2 separate regions of the Homo sapiens genome follow, and region 2 is linked to region 1. Evidence: fine-mapped expression QTL. Tissue or cell type: breast. Region 1 holds a variant in brackets; the other region holds the start of a gene. All regions are shown on one strand. Distances are from middle to middle.

What was found. PIP is the estimated chance that this variant, and not a neighbour inherited with it, causes the effect.
Region 2: it holds the start of PIR, and the variant in region 1 is fine-mapped to the expression of PIR in breast (GTEx, PIP above 0.99).

What each region holds. Positions count from the first base shown.
Region 1 is chrX:16,270,046-16,278,153 of GRCh38, reverse strand. No RefSeq gene overlaps it. Among named protein-coding and RNA genes, the nearest start is that of MAGEB17-AS1, 110 kb to the right of the region's middle. The variant C/G (reference allele first, on the strand shown) is at 4,370.
Region 2 is chrX:15,489,468-15,497,561 of GRCh38, reverse strand. It overlaps PIR (pirin), which reads left to right and starts at 4,229. Exons shown (of 10, transcript NM_001018109.3): 1 at 4,229-4,372; 2 at 6,253-6,400. The coding sequence starts at 6,305. It overlaps PIR-FIGF (PIR-FIGF readthrough), which reads left to right and starts at 6,253. Exons shown (of 15, transcript NR_037859.2): 1 at 6,253-6,400. RefSeq lists enhancers at 3,813-4,316, 4,317-4,819.

The DNA of each region.
Region 1 (8,108 bases):
TACAAGAAGCTCAAAGGACACCTGGGAAATTCTTCGCAAAAAGATCATCACTTAAGCACATAGTCATCAGGTTATCTAAAGTCAAGATGAAGAAAAAAATCTTAAGAGCTGTGAGGCAAAAGCATCAGGTAAACCTATAAAGGAAAAAGTATTAGATTAACAGCAGATTTCTCAGCAGAAACCCTGCAAGCTAGAAGGGGTTGGGTCCCATCTTTAGCCTCCTTAAACAAAACAATTATCAGCCAAGAATTTTGGGTCCAGTGAAACTAAGCTTCATAAATGGAGGAAAGATACAGTCTTTTTCAGACAAACAAATGCTGAGAATTCACCACTACCAAGCCAGCACTACAAGAACTGCTAAAAAGAGCTCTAAATCTTGAAACAAATCCCCAAAATACACCAAAATAGAATCTCCTTAAAGCATTAATCTCACAGGACTTATAAAATAACAACACAATAAAAAAACAAAAAAACAAAACAAAACAAAACCAAGGTATTCAGGCAACAAATAGCATGATGACTAGAATAGGACTTCACATCTCAATACTTACATTGAATGTAAATGGCCTAAATGCTCCACTTAAAAGATACAAAATGGCAGAATGGATAAGAATTCACCAACCAAGTATCTGCTGTCTTCAAGAGGCTCACCTGACACATAAGGACTCACATAAACTTAGGGTAAAGGGATGGAAAAAGATATTCCATGCAAATGAACACCAAAAGCGACCAGGAGTAGCTATTCTTATATCAGACAAAACAAACTTTAAAGCAACAGCAGTCAAAAAAAAGACAAAGAAGGCTAGGTGCAGTGGCTCATGCCTATAATCCCAGCACTCTGGGAGGCCACGGTGGGTGGATTGCTTGAGTCCAGGATTTCGAGACCAGCTTGGACAACAGAGCAAAACCCCACCTCTCCTAAAAATACAAAAAAAAAAAAAAAAATTAGCTGGGTGTGGTGGCGTGCACCTGCAGTCCCAGCTACTCAGGAGGCTGAAGTGGAAAAATAACTTGAGGCTGGGAGGTCAAGGCTACCGTGAGCCAAGATTGTGTCACTGCACTCTAAACCTGGGCAACCAGAGTGAGACCCTGTCTCACAAAAAAAAGAAAAAGACACTATATAATGATAAAAAGACTAGTCCAACAGGAAAAATCACAATCCTAAATATATATGCACCTAACACTGGAGCTCCCAAATTTGTAAAACAATGACTGCTAGACCTAAGAAATGAGATAGACAGCAACACAATAATAGTGGAGGACTTCAATAGTCCACTGACAGCACTAGACAGGTCATCAAAACAAAAAGTCAACAAAGAAACAATGGACTTAAACTATACCCTAGAACAAATGGACTTAACAAATATTTATAGAATATTCTACCCAACAACTGCAGAATATACATTCTATTCATCAGCACCAGGAACATTCTCCAAGATAGACCATATGATAGGCCAAAAAACAAGTCTCAACAAATTTAAGAAAATTGAAATTATAGCAAGTACTCTCTCAAACCACAGTGGAATAAAATTAAAAATCAACTTCAAAAGGAACTTTCAAAACCATGCAAATACATGGAAATTAAATAACCTGCTTTTGAATGATCATTGGGTCAACAATGAAATAAAAATGAAAATTTAAAAATTATTTGAACTGAACAATAATAGTGACACAACCTATCAAAACCTCCGGGATACAGCAAAGGCAGTGCTAAGAAGAAAGTTTATAGCATTAAATGCCTATATCAAAAAATCTGAAAGAGCACAAATAGACAATCTAAGGTCACACCTCAAGGAGCTAGAGAAACAAGAACAAACCAAACCCAAACCCAGCAGAAAGAAACAAATAACGAAGATCAGAGCAGAACTAAATAAAATTGAAGCAAAAAAAAAAAAAAAATACAAAAGATAAACGAAACAAAGAGATGGTTCTTTGAAAAGATAAATAAAATTCATAGACCATTAGTGAGATTAACCAAGAAAAAAAGAGAGAAGATCCTAATAAGCTCAATTAGAAACGGAACAGGAGATACTAAAACCAATACCACAGAAATACAAAAGATCATTCAAGGCTACTATGAACAGCTTTACACACCTAAACTAGAAAACCTAGAGGAGATGGACAAATTCCTGGATATATACAGCCCTCCTAGATTAAACCAGGAAGAAATAGAAACTCTGAACAGACCTATAACACGCAGCAAGATTGAAATGGTAATTAAAAAGTTACCAACAAAAAAAGTCCAGGACCAGACAGATTCACAGCTGAATTCTATCAGACATTCAAAGAAGAATTGGTACCAATCCTATTGACATTATTCCGAAAGACAGAGAAAGAGGGAATCCTCCTTAAATCATTCTATAAAGCCAATATCACCCTAATACCAAGACCAGGAAAAGTCATAACAAAAAAAGAAAACTACAGACCAATATCCCTGATGAACATAGATGCAAAAATCCTTAACAAAATACTAGCTAACCAAATCCAACAGCATACCAAAAAGATAATCCACTGTGACCAAGTGGGTTTCATGCCAGGGATGCAGGGATGGTTTAATATCTGCAAGTCAATAAATGTGATACACCCCATATAAACAGAATTAAAAACAAAAATTACATGATCATTTCAATAGATGCAGAAAAAGCATTTGACAAAATTCAGCATACTCAGTAAAATCGGCATAGAAGGGACATATTTTAAGGTAATAAAAGCCATCTACAACAAACCCACAGCCAACATTATACTGAATGGGGGAAAGTTGAAAGCATTTCCCCTGAGCACTGGGACAAGACAAGGATGCTTTCACCACTTCTATTCAACATAGTACTGGAAGCCCTAGTCAGAGCCATCAGAAAAGAGAAAGAAAGGGCATCCAAATCGGTAAAGAGGAATTCAAACTGTTGCTGTTTGCTGATGACATGATTGTATACCTAGAAAACCCTAAAGACTCACCCAAAAAGCTCCTATAACTGGTAAATGAGGTTCAGCAAAGTTTCAGGATACAAAATTAATGTACACAGTGGCCCTGCTATACACCAACAGCAACCAAGCCAAGAATCAAAGCAAGAACTCAACCTCTTTCACAATAGCTGCAAAAAATAAATAAATAAATAAATAAAAACAGAATATACTTAACCAAGGAGGTGAAAAACCTCTACAAGGAAAACTACAAAACATTGCTGAAGGAAATAATAGATGGCACAAACAAATGGAAACCCATCCCATGCTCATGGATGGGTAGAATCAATATTGTGAAAAGGGTGGAATCAATATTGTGAAAATGACTATAATGCCAAAAGCAATCTACAAATTCAATGTAATTCCCATAAAAATACCACCATACCATCATCATTCTTCAAAGAATTACAAAAAAAAAGAAAAAAATCCTGAAATTCATATGGAACCAAAAAGAGCCCACATAATCAAAGAAAGACTAAGCAAATAGAACAAATCTGGAGGCATCACATTACCTGACTTCAAACTATACTGTAAGGCCATAGTCACCAAAACAGCATGGTACTAGTATTAAAATTGGCATATAGACCAATGAAACAGAATAGAGACCCCAGAAATAAAGCCAAATACTTACAGTCAACTGATCTTCAACAAAGCAAACAAAAATATAAAGTGGGGAAAGGACACCCTATTCAACAAACGTTGCTGGGATAATTGGCAAGTCACATGTAGAAGAATGAAACTGGGTCCTCATCTCTCACCTTATACAAAAATCAACTCAACATGGATCAAAGACTTAAATCTAAGACCTGAAACTGTAAAAATTCTAGAAGATAACATTGGAAAAACCCTTATAGACATGGGTTTAGGCAAAGAATTCATGTCCAAGAACCCAAAATCAAATGCAACAAAAACAAAGAAAAATAGATGGGACTTAATTAAACTAAAAAGCTTCTGTACAGCAAAAGAAATAATCAGCAGACTAAACAAACAACCCACAGAGTGGGAGAAAATCTTCACAATCCATACATCTGACAAAGGACTAATATTCAGAATCTATAAGGAATTCAAACAGTCCCATCAAAAAGTGGGCTAAGGACATGAATAGACAATTCTCAAACGAAGATATACAAATGGCCAACAAACATATGAAAAAATGCTCAACATCACTAATGATCAGGGAAATGCAAATCAAAGCCACAAAGTGATATGCCACGTTACTCCTGCAAGAATGGCCACAATTAAAAAATTTAAAAAATAAGAGATGTTGGTGTGGATGTGGTGAAAAGGGAACACTTTTACACTGTTGGTGGGAATGTAAACTAGTACGACCCCTATGAAAAACAGTGTGGAGATCCCTTAAAGAACTAAAAGTAGATCTACCATTTGATCCAGCAATCCCATTCCTGGGTAT[C/G]TACCAGAGGAAAAGAAGTCATTATACGAAAAAGATACTTGCACATACATGTTTATAGCAGCACAATTCGCAATTGCAAAAATGTGGAGCCAGCTCAAATGCCCATCAATCAACGAGTGGGTAAAGAAAATGTGGTATATAGATGCCATGGAATACTACTCAGCCATAAAAAGGAACAAAATAATGGCATTTTCAGCAACCTGGACGGAATTGAAGACCATTATTCTAAGTGAAGTAACTCAGTGATGGAAAACCAAACATCGTATGTTCTCACTCATAAGTGGGAGCTAAGCTATTAGGACGCAAAGGTATAAGAATGACACAATGAACTTTGGGGACTTGAGGGAAAGGGTGGGATGGAGGTAAGGGAAAAAAGACTACACACTGGGTACAGTGTACATTGCTCAGGTGATGGATGCACCAAAATCTCAGAAATCACCACTAAAGGACTTATTCATGTAACCAAACATGACCTGTTCCCCAAAAACCTATTGAAAATTTTTAAAAGATTATAAAAAATATAAATTTGTGTGCAATAAAATCAAATAATTTTGACAACTTTTTATGTAAAGAATAATTAAGTTTTTGAAGTCTGCCAGTTTAAATAATTTTTTAGATTTTTGGATAACTCAAAATCTTCGTTTAATATCAAGTTAAGCTAATTTGTGAGTAATTATTGAATACCTAAATAATTTTTTTTTTTTTGAGACGAAGTCTTGCTCTTGTCCCCCAGGCTGGAATGCAATGGTGCAATCTCGGCTCACTGCAACCTCCGCTTCCCAGGTTCAAGTGATTCTCCCACCTCAGCCTTCCGAGTAGCTGGTATTACAGGCGCCTGCCACTATGCCTGGCTAATTTTTGTATTTTTAGTAGAGACGGGGTTTCACCATGTTGTCCAGGCTGGTCTCAAACTCCTTACCTCAGGTGATCTGCCCACCTCAGCATCCCAAAGTGCTGGGATTACAGGTGTGAGCCATTGCACCTGGCCATAATTTCTAAGATGCAATTCTGAGATTTTGATTACTAAATATTGTGTTGTTTCTATGCTTTTGCTTACCCTTTTATATGATGTAAAAAAAATCTAAATCTTTGGGTCATTTAATGAATGTGTTCATGTTAGCCATTCTGTAATGTAAAAGGGATGTGTGTGGTTGTAGAAAGTTGTGTTATGTGTGTTCGTGAACTTTGCTAGTCTACTAAAATACTCCTTTATATTAAAAGCCTGCACGACAGAGCGAGACTCCATCTCAAAAAAAAAAAAAAACAGTTTTCAATTATCTACCTTCATCCATTTTTCTGTATGAAATAGAGGTTAACTACTTTGGTTAAAAGTTATAACTACAGCTCGGGCAACACAATAAGACCCCATCTTTACAAAAAATAAAAAATTAGCTGAGTGTGGTGCTGCGTGCCTGTAGTCCTAGCTGCTCAGGAGGCTGAGAAGGGAGGATTGCTTGAGCCCAGGAGTTCAAGGCTGCAATGACCTATGATTGTGCTAGTGCACTCTAGCTCAGGTGATAGAATGAGGCCTTGTCTTAAAATAAAATTATAATTAATATGGCTGGTTGAGACTATACTGTGAACATTCGTGACAGAGAAATATAATTATTTACGTGCTTTGTTTCTCAGAGCAAAAGAGAGTACTTTTATCCTAATGGATGTATTCTCAAACCCTTTGGTCTCAGGATCCCTTTACATTTTTAAAACTTTTAAGGACTACTAAAGAGCTTTTGTTTAAGCAGGTTGTATTTATCAGCCTTTGTGATATTAGAAATGAAAATTAAGAAATCTTTAAAGTATTTGATACTTTTGAAAAATAGATATAATGAACTGATTGCATGCTAACCTAAATAACACATTTAATGAAAACAAATTATATTTTTAAAAAATTAGTGAGGAGAGTTGCATTGTTGTAAATTTTTGTAAATCTCTTTGATAATAGAGATTTGCTAATAGAACTAATAGAAGCCTTCATGTTAAAAACTGTCAATAAATTAAGTATTGAAGGAACATACCTAAAAATAATAAGAGCTATTTATGACAAACCCAGAGCCAATATCATACTGAATGGGCAAAAGCTGGAAGCATTCCCCTTGAAAACTGGCATAAGACAAGAATGCTCACTCTCACCACTCCTGTTCAACATAGTATTGGAAGTTTTGGCCAGGGCAATCAGGCAACAGAAAGAAATAGATGGTATTTGAATAGGAAGAAAGGAAGTCAAATTATCTTTGTATGCAGATGACATGATCCTATATCTAGAAAACCCCATCGTCTCAGCCCAAAATCTTCTCAAGCTGATAAGCAACTTCAGCAAAGTCTCAGGATACAAAATCAAGATGCAAAAGTCACAAGCATTCCTATACACAAACAATAGGCAAGCAGAGAGCCAAATCATGAATGAACTCCCATTCACAATTACTACAGAGAGTATAAAATACCTAGGAATACAGCTAACAAGGGAAGTGAAGGACCTCTTCAAGGAGAACTACAAACCACTGCTCAAGGAAATCAGAGAGAACATAAATGAAAAAAACATTCCACGCTCATGAATAGAAAGAATCAATATTGTGAAAATGGCCATACTGCCCAAAGTAGTTTATAGATTCAATGATATTGCCATTAAACTACCATTGACATTCTTCACAGATTTAGAAGAAACTATTTTAAAATTCATATGGAACGAAAAAAGAGGTCATATAGCCAGGACAATCCTATGCAAAAAGAACAAAGCTGGAGGCATCACACTACCAGACTTCAAACTATGCTACAAGGCTACAATAACCAAAACAGCATGGTACTGGTACAAAAACAGATATGTAGATCAATGGAACAGAACACAGAACTCTGAAAAAAGACTGTACATCTACAACTGTCTGATCTTCGACAAACCTGACAAAAACAAGCAATGGGGAAAGGATTCCCTATTTAATAAATGGTGCTGGGAAAACTAGCTAGCCATATGCAGAAAATTGAAACTGGACCCCTTCTTTACACCTTATACAAAAATTAACTCAAGATGGATCAAAGACTTAAATGTAAAACCCAAAAGCAAAAATTGACAAATGGGATCAAATTAAACTAAAGAGCTTCTGCACCGCAAAAGAAACTATCATCAGAGAGAACAGGCAACCTACAGAATGGGAGAAAATTCTTGCAATCTATCCATCTGACAAAGGTCTAATATCCAGAATCTACAAGGAACTTAAACAAATTTACAAGAAAAAAAAAACAAACAACCCCATTAAACAGTGGGCAAAGGACATGAACAGACACTTCTCAAAAGAAGACATTCATGTGGCCAACAAACATATGAAAAAAAGCTCCACATCACTGATCACTAGAGAAATGCAAATCAAAACCACAATGAGATACCATCTCATGTCAGTTAGAATGGCAGTTATTAAAAGGTCAAGAAACAACAAATGCTGGCGAGGTTACAGAGAAATAGGAATGCTTTTATACTGTTGGTGGGAAGGAAAATTAGTTCAACCATTGTAGAAGATGGTGTGGCGATTCCTCAAAAACCTAGAACCAGAAATACCATTTGACCCAGCAATCCCATTACCAGGTATATACCCAAAGGAATATAAATTATTCTGTTACAAAGATACATGCACATGTATGTTCATTGCAGCACTATTCACAATAGCAAAAACATGGAATCAACCCAAATGCCCATCAACGATAGACTAGATAAAGAAAATGTGGTACATATACACCATGGAATACTATGCAG
Region 2 (8,094 bases), 780 kb after region 1:
TTAATTATTTATTACCTTTATTATTTGTCTCTCCTCACTAAAGAGTAAGACCACAAGGGCTCCAACAGCTTATCTCTGCAGTTTGAACTTTGTTCATGGGTATCTCTTCTTTGGGGACGTCACTCCATTACCTCCTGCATGTATTCCTTCTGGTGCTAAAATAATCTGCTTGTAAGTTGGGATCAGATGTGAATTATTCACACTTACTAGAATTGAAGATTAACATGTCACCTCTCCTAAGGGTGCTTGCATATCAAACCTCAGGTTCAGTGCCGGAACAAACTGCCCTGTTTTTAATGAAAGGAAATGGGTGAGTAGGAGGTGGAGGTAGACACAAAAATGTTTGTTGTTTCCTTTTGTTATCAGCCATGTCCTGTCCTGTCACCCATGAAACCTTTACATAGACTGTTGGCATTTTGTCAATCTTACTCCTGTTTTTCTAGTCGGAGGTAAGTATTTGTGGTCTACATGGAGTTGGCGAACTATGAGCCCCATGAGTTTTTGTGAATAAAATTTATTGGAACACAGCCACTATTCCTGCCCCACGGCCTTTGCATTGATGGTATCCTCTACTTGGCAAACTGTCAAGTGTTGTCTATGTCTGCTTTCAGTCTACAACGGCAGAGTTGAATAGTTGAGACAGAGACTGTATGCTCACAAAGTCTCAAATACTTACTATCTGGCCTTCACAGAAATAAATCACCAACTCATACTCTGGAAGCATCCTGCCAGCTTTGGAAGTGATCTTGCAGCTTGGAATTTAGTTTAACAGCTCCATTCAACAGAGAGTCACTTCATTTACTGTGTACAAGGTGCTAGAGTTGGAAGCAAAGAAAGTAGACAAAGGGGTATAACATTTTGGAATCCTTCTAGTTCTGATTCCCACTGTGACTCAAATTATTTTTTTCCTAAGATTGTATCATGAAACATTTCAAAATATAGAAAAGTTAAAAAAAGTTAAAGCACCAATACACCACCATCTGGATTCTACAATTGACATTTTGCTGTATTTGCTTTGTCATATATCAATCCGTTTATCCATCTCTCTATTCATCCATTAATTCACTTTGTTGTCATTCCTATTATTATTGCTGCTATTGTTATTTTTTGGTGCATTCAAAGTAAGTTGCGGACATCAGTACACTTAATCCATAAACACTAGTTAATGTACATAACATTAACTAGAGGTTGTTAGTTATTCAAATTATTTTTTAATTTTTACTCCAATACTGTGATCTAGAAAGCGGCCTCCATTCAGCCAGAAGACAAAACTTTACAAAAGCTGAAAACTGAGAAAGGTTATCAGGGTAATTGAGGTAAGTATCAGGGGAATCATTCATCTAAATTTCTCCAGTTTCCTGGTTCAGAGATGAATTGGCCTTTCAGGCCTGAGAGTATTTTGCTTGTGATGGATTCTAGAAAGTTCTGTGGCTCAAAGGAAAGGGTCATAAGCTATTTTTTTTTCGGAGAACTGCCAAAAACCCAAGGGAAAGATAGAGAAAAACACAATTATGAGTTTCATGCAACAGCTGATCACATGTAGCTTCTTGGTCAGAGCACTGGTCGATGGAACAGACCGTGTCTGTGCAGAATGCTCTCATGAGGGTGGATATGGGAGTCACATGTGCTCATCTTTTCTGGATATCTTTGGATGTCTTTAACCACCCAGTGTATTTATGGCCTTCGTAAACTAGCATTTATAAAATAATCAGTCCTTGACTTGGAGCCAATTGATTTCCTGGGTTCAGTGAGTCTGAGTCTTTATAATATGGAATATTTCAGAGACATTTGTCATCTAATGAATAGCAGCTACACTGCCCTGAAGGGCAAATTAACAAAATCTACAAGAAAGAATTTTTGAGTTGATGGCTTGAAGAAGAAAGAAACAAAAATAAGGAAGTGTTTCAGATGTCCATGTACTTTTTTTTTTTTTTTTTTAATTTTTGAGACTGAGTTTCACTCTTGTTGCCCAGGCTGGAGTGCAATGGCACGACCTCGGCTCACGGCAACCTCCGTCTCCTGGGTTCAAGCAATTCTCCTGCCTCAGTCTCCCGAGTAGCTGGGATTAGAGGCATGCGCCCCCACGCCTGGCTAATTTTGTACTTTTAGTAGAGACAGGGTTTCTCCATTTTGGTCAGGCTGGTCTCGAACTCCCGACCTCAGGTGATCTGCCTGCCTCGGCCTCCCAAAGTGCTGGGATTACAGGCGTGAGCCACCGCGCCTGGCCCCATGTACTTCTATAATATGTATCTTTGAAAAGAAATTCAATAAGTTTTACAGAGGAGGAAAATGGAATTCGTGAATAAAAAAGAAAAGAGTCAAGGTACCTAAATAATGTGGTTGTCTTTAAAGATTATAATGGTGTTATTTGGAATCATTTAGGGAAGGCTTTGTTCATTGTCATATCAGCATGAGTTTTCTTTATGCTTCCCAAGATTCCAAAGGTGATCAACAGTCCATCTACACACTCATATATTTAGCCACCTACTCCACATCTTGATCTGGATGTCAATGACAGTGTGAAAAGTGCTCAAAGCTTAATATACAGGGTCACATTTCTCATCTCAAAACAGGACCCTGTTACAGTGAAACATTATACGCCCTTTGTTCATTTGTAAGAATTCTTCCCTCTCTCACCTTTGTTTCTCCTCATTTTAAGTCTTCTACCTTTTCAGACTTGTTCTTTTTTCTTTTCTTTTCTTTTTTCTGCAGGGGCCTGTAAATGGAATTCCTGCATTGCTCTAACCATGTACAACCTTGGACTTAGCTTTTACCTGTAACTGGCTTCTGAGAGACAAAGAGGAGAAACGTTCACTCCTAGTACACCTATTACAGCTGCAGAGGTAGAGGAGACAGTTGCAGAACTAGTTACAATGACGATAAGAAACAATACTTTGTTATTCCATAGCACCTTTAATGTTCATGTGTATTATCTCAGCTAGCCTTGAACTGCCTAAGTAAGGTGATGAGGACGGGTTTAAGCCCCACTGATATTTTAAAAGCCCAGAGAAAAGTGTTCGTTCCTCTACTAACCTGTTCTTTTAGAGCAGGGATCTGCATACTAGGCCTGCAGCCAAAATGAGTAGGTAGCCCACTACCTATTTTTGTATAGCCAGAGGGCTAAGAATGGTTTTTACATTTTAAGTGGTTTTACATTTAAGATCAAAAGAAGGATAATATTTCATGACAAGTAAAAATTATATGAACTCAAAATTGTATGAATTTTATGAATTTATATTTCAGTATTCATAATTAAAGTTTTATTGAACTACAGCCACATTCATTTATTTACATGTTATCTATGGCTGCTTTCTTGCTACAAAGGCAAACTGGAGAATGTACATGGCCTGCAAAGTCAAAGTATTTACTATCTGGTCCTTCACAGACAAAGTTTTCCAACCTTATTTTAGAGACACCACTGTCTTTCCTTTCTCAAAACCAGGCAATGAGCCTTCTGGTGTTTAGAGAATAGAAACTGCAGCTATGCCTGTACCACTAGTTAATAATCCTAGTAATCAACTAGATCCCCTCACTGGCTTGTGCCAGCTCCTCATTCTTCTGGAAAAACTCTCCAACGCCTGCCCACTGTGTTCCAACACCATACAAACTCTTAACCAATTATCTCCCCACTAGAGTGTGCCTTCTCTTCAGGCAGGAATAAAGACGTATGGCTGCCCGTCCCCACTCCCGCACTCCTTTTCTCGCAATTCTAACTGACAAACAGCAGGCAACTTATCTATGGAACAAACGATTCTGTAGTGCTTAGAATGTGACAGGCTCATTTAATTCTCATTTCAGCCCGATAAGGCTGGCACTATTATCATCACCATCCTCATTTTATAGAGGAGGAACCAGAGGCACAGAGAGACTGAGCCACCTGTCCCAGGTCATGTCAAGTGGTGCCTCCCAGCGGTGGAGGCAGCACTGGAATCCGTGCCGCCAAGCTCCGCCGGCTGGGTGACAGGGAGACTACAGTTAAAAACAGATTTCCCACAAGACCGACCGGAGCGCCGATCAGAGCACCTGCCCGGGCCACACATTTCCTCCTGGAGCACAGCAAGTGCCGCCTAAATTACCCGAGTGAGCATCTCTTCCCGGCACGAGAGGCAGGGAGGCCAAAGGGCCGCCAAGCTGGCCTGGGAGAGGCGTAGGGCGGAGCGAGAGTGGAGTGACATTCCCGAGGGCGGAGCCCCAGGGCCTCCGAGACCCGTAGACTCCCGCCTCCCGCCTCCTCTAGGCCGCCGGCCGCGAAGCGCTGAGTCACGGTGAGGCTACTGGACCCACACTCTCTTAACCTGCCCTCCCTGCACTCGCTCCCGGCGGCTCTTCGCGTCACCCCCGCCGCTAAGGCTCCAGGTGCCGCTACCGCAGCGTGAGTACCTGGGGCTCCTGCAGGGGTCCACTAGGTGAGGGAATGCTGGCGGTCAGTTTGCAAAATCCTGCCTTCCCCAGCTCACTTTAGACTCCTAGGGGAGATAACAAGAGATACTTAAATTGTACTACGAAATTTGGTGAAAATGGTAGACGGCTTTTCTTTCTGCAAAGCACTGAGATCTAAGTACCTCATCAGTTGTTCACATGCATACAATTTAATCGTAGGAGTCTGGAAGGACCCAGACATAATCTAGATGGGGATAAAGATACTTTCTGGTTGCTTCGATGTAGGTGATGACCGGCCTGTACTGCTTTGAGTATTAAGCTCGTTTCTGCGCCTTGCAACCTATCACCCAATAAATATTTATCGATTACTATTCAGGGAGGATACATTTTAGGGTAGGCCTTGACTAAGTGGAGGGTATTGTGGAGTAGAGCCCTTCTGAATAACAGCAGCTAACATTCTCATAGCACTAACTGCACCCCTTTGAGGTAGGCGGTCTTATCATTCCATTTTACAGATAAAACTGAGCCACAGAAAACCTCAGGTCACACAGCTGATATGTGGTGAAGCTGAGATGCAAACCTAGGCTGTCTGGTTCCAGAGTCTGCTTTTTGCCAAAGCACCTCTCTTCGTTTCAGTAGGAATCTTTGAAGGAATTGGGTATATTTCACTTGAAGAAAAGATTTAAGGGATTGGGGGTACTGTCTGCAAACACTTGAAGTGGAATAGGGATAGATTATATTCCTTCTGGGATAGTCCATTAGAACCTAGACCTCCCAAAGAGGAAAAGACTTTCGAATAACAAACTCTGGCTATAGGTAAGTCCTGAAATATGAGATACATTGCCAAGAACAGCTGGTCCATGACTTGCCTATGCTCTAGGAGACTTCATGAGTAAGCTGAAAGATTTCTTGCCCAAAATGTTGGCCCTGAACTTCAGGAATAGATGGGTCTTTGAATTCAATGACCCTCGAAGATCTCTTTTAATGCCAAGATCTTCAGCATGTTCTGGTAAGAGTTAGGGACCTCTTTGTTTTTCTCCATTTTCTCTAAGGCGCCACACAAACCTGCCCCCATCTGTCAGCCTCATTGGTAGCAACTACCTCATGGGTGCTACCAGTGAGGCTGACAGATGAGTGGCACTGGGGAAGGGGTGGGAGATCGAGAGAATTCAGTGAAGTAAGAAAGACAAAGTGTTCATTGGAGATTTTTAGTAAGGGGCCAACAGAGCTGCTAAAGTCATGCTTCACTTAACGATGGGGATATGTTCGGAGAAATGCATTGTTAGGTGATTTTGTCGTTGTGCAAGCATCTTAGAGTACACTTAGACAAACCTAGCTGGTATAACCTAGGTGTGTAGTAGGATATATGGTATAGCCTATTGTTCCTAGGCTACAAACCCATACAGCATGTTCCTGTACTGAATACTGAGGCAACTGCAACACCGTGGTGAGTATTTGTGTATCTAAACATACCTAAACATAGAAAAGATACAGTAAAAATATGGCATTATAGTCTTATGGGACTACTGTCATACATACAGTCCATATATTGTTGACTGTGTAATGTTGACCTGAATGTCATTATGTGGCAGGCACATGACTGTATCGCTAACCTTCGCACAAGATTACTGTAGGATTACATGAGATAGTTGTAAATAATTGGTGGGGTACTGGGCACCTAGTAGGTATGCATACATGTTCACCATCATTATGGTTGTTTTAAATCACCTAACCCAGGCCCTGCACATAGTAAGACATCAACAAATTGTAGCTGCTACTATTTTGCGCATCTAATCTTAATATCATTTATTTTGTAGTCCTTGGATGTTCCCTCCTTTATGACTTCTTTTTTTTTTGTTGTCCTTCCTTTAGCCCTCCATCCTCTACAGCTCAGCATCAGAACACTCTCTTTTTAGACTCCGATATGGGGTCCTCCAAGAAAGTTACTCTCTCAGTGCTCAGCCGGGAGCAGTCGGAAGGGGTTGGAGCGAGGGTCCGGAGAAGCATTGGCAGACCCGAGGTATGCTAGTTGGGTGGCTGCTCCTTGTTTTCTTTTCAGAAGGGACTGGTGGGATGTTGATGGTGATTTTGGGAAGAGGGGGCCAAGATAGTCGTGAGCTGGCCTGTGGAGTGCATAAGTGCAAACTTTAAAGTTTGCAATTGGGGGCAAACCAGCCCCAGCCCAAAGGGGGTTTCTGTAATGTGAATACAGAGGTCTTGGGCAGAAAGTGCAGCTGAGCTTCAGGAAATGTCTCTGCTTCTCTCTGCACACTGGTGTGCCACCCTGGGCTGACATGCTATCTGCCTCAGCATGCATATCGCCAAACATGCCCACCACACAGCCCCTAAGTTTATTTGCCCACACTTCAAAGCACCAGGGAGTAACTCTGATTCTCAATTCCAAATTCCCAGGAGAGAGAATCTGATTGGTTGAGCATAGATCAGGCCTCCACTGCTGGCCAATCTGCCGTTGCCAAGGATTTAGATTCACTGAGAGACTGCTGGGACCCAACTCTGTAGACGTCTGGTGAGGGACACGTGTAGATGGGTCTAGCTCTCAGAGAAGGTGATTATAGATTAGGTAGATGTCTTTCAACTTTAGAGAATGTTTTCATTTGAATATGGGAAATTTGGGATTTGTGGGGGAAATAAGTCTTATATGCACAGAAAGGTATCAGATGGTGGTCATAGCCCAGGGAATACAGCCCCTAGCACCATATCAGATCCCCAAAACATTTTCTAATAGAAGAAATACATTACAGAGATGGATTCCATTTTGAAAAGTGAGACTGGTTTGTCCCTCTTAAACTCTACTCTGATAATTTTCATGCTACTTTGTTGCTCAACTTAAGCTTTAAAAGGGTTACTTTCTCAACTTTTTAATCTTTGAAATGTATTTATAGGGTTTTAAAAAACTCCTGGCCTTCCTCAATGAGTGCTGATCTACATTTTTGATGGGTTCAATTTTTTTAGTTATGTTTTAAATTGACAAATAAAAATTGTATATATTTATGATGTACAAAATGATGTTTTGATAGGTGTCTATATTGTGGGATGGCTAAATCAAGCTAATTAACATATTCATTACCTCACATACTTATTTTTTTGTGATGAGAACACTTAAAGTCTCTCTTAGCCAATTTCGAGTATACATTGTTATTAACTATAGTCACCATTTTGTGCAATGAATCTCTTGAACTCATTCCTCCTGACTGAAATTTTGCATCCTTTGACCAACATCTCTCCTTCCATATCCTCCCATCCCCTAGCCGGGGTAACCACCATTCTACTCTTTGCTTCTGTGAGTTTGATTTTTTTAGATTTCGCATATGAGTGAGATCATGCAGTAATTGTCTTTCTGTGCCTGGCTTATTTCACCTAGCGTAATGTTGATTGGCCACTGAGGCAGAGGAAAAACTGTCAACACAACTCTCCATCAGCCCCATCAGGCCATTTCTCTTTCCAGTTAGCTTCCTGTTTACACCTGAATGTCTTTTGAGGTCCATCAAACAGTGTTTTCTGAAGGATACCTGCAAACAAGATTATTCTAATGGCTAAATGCACAGGGAGTGTTGGGGAGATGCAGATGGAGTTGGTATCATATTCTACTAGGCTACATCACCAATAGAACAATTGGAAAGAATTTTGGGGCCCCAAACACACCTGTTACTAAGCCACTATTATATATTGAGGGTAACTAACACTTTAATTAGC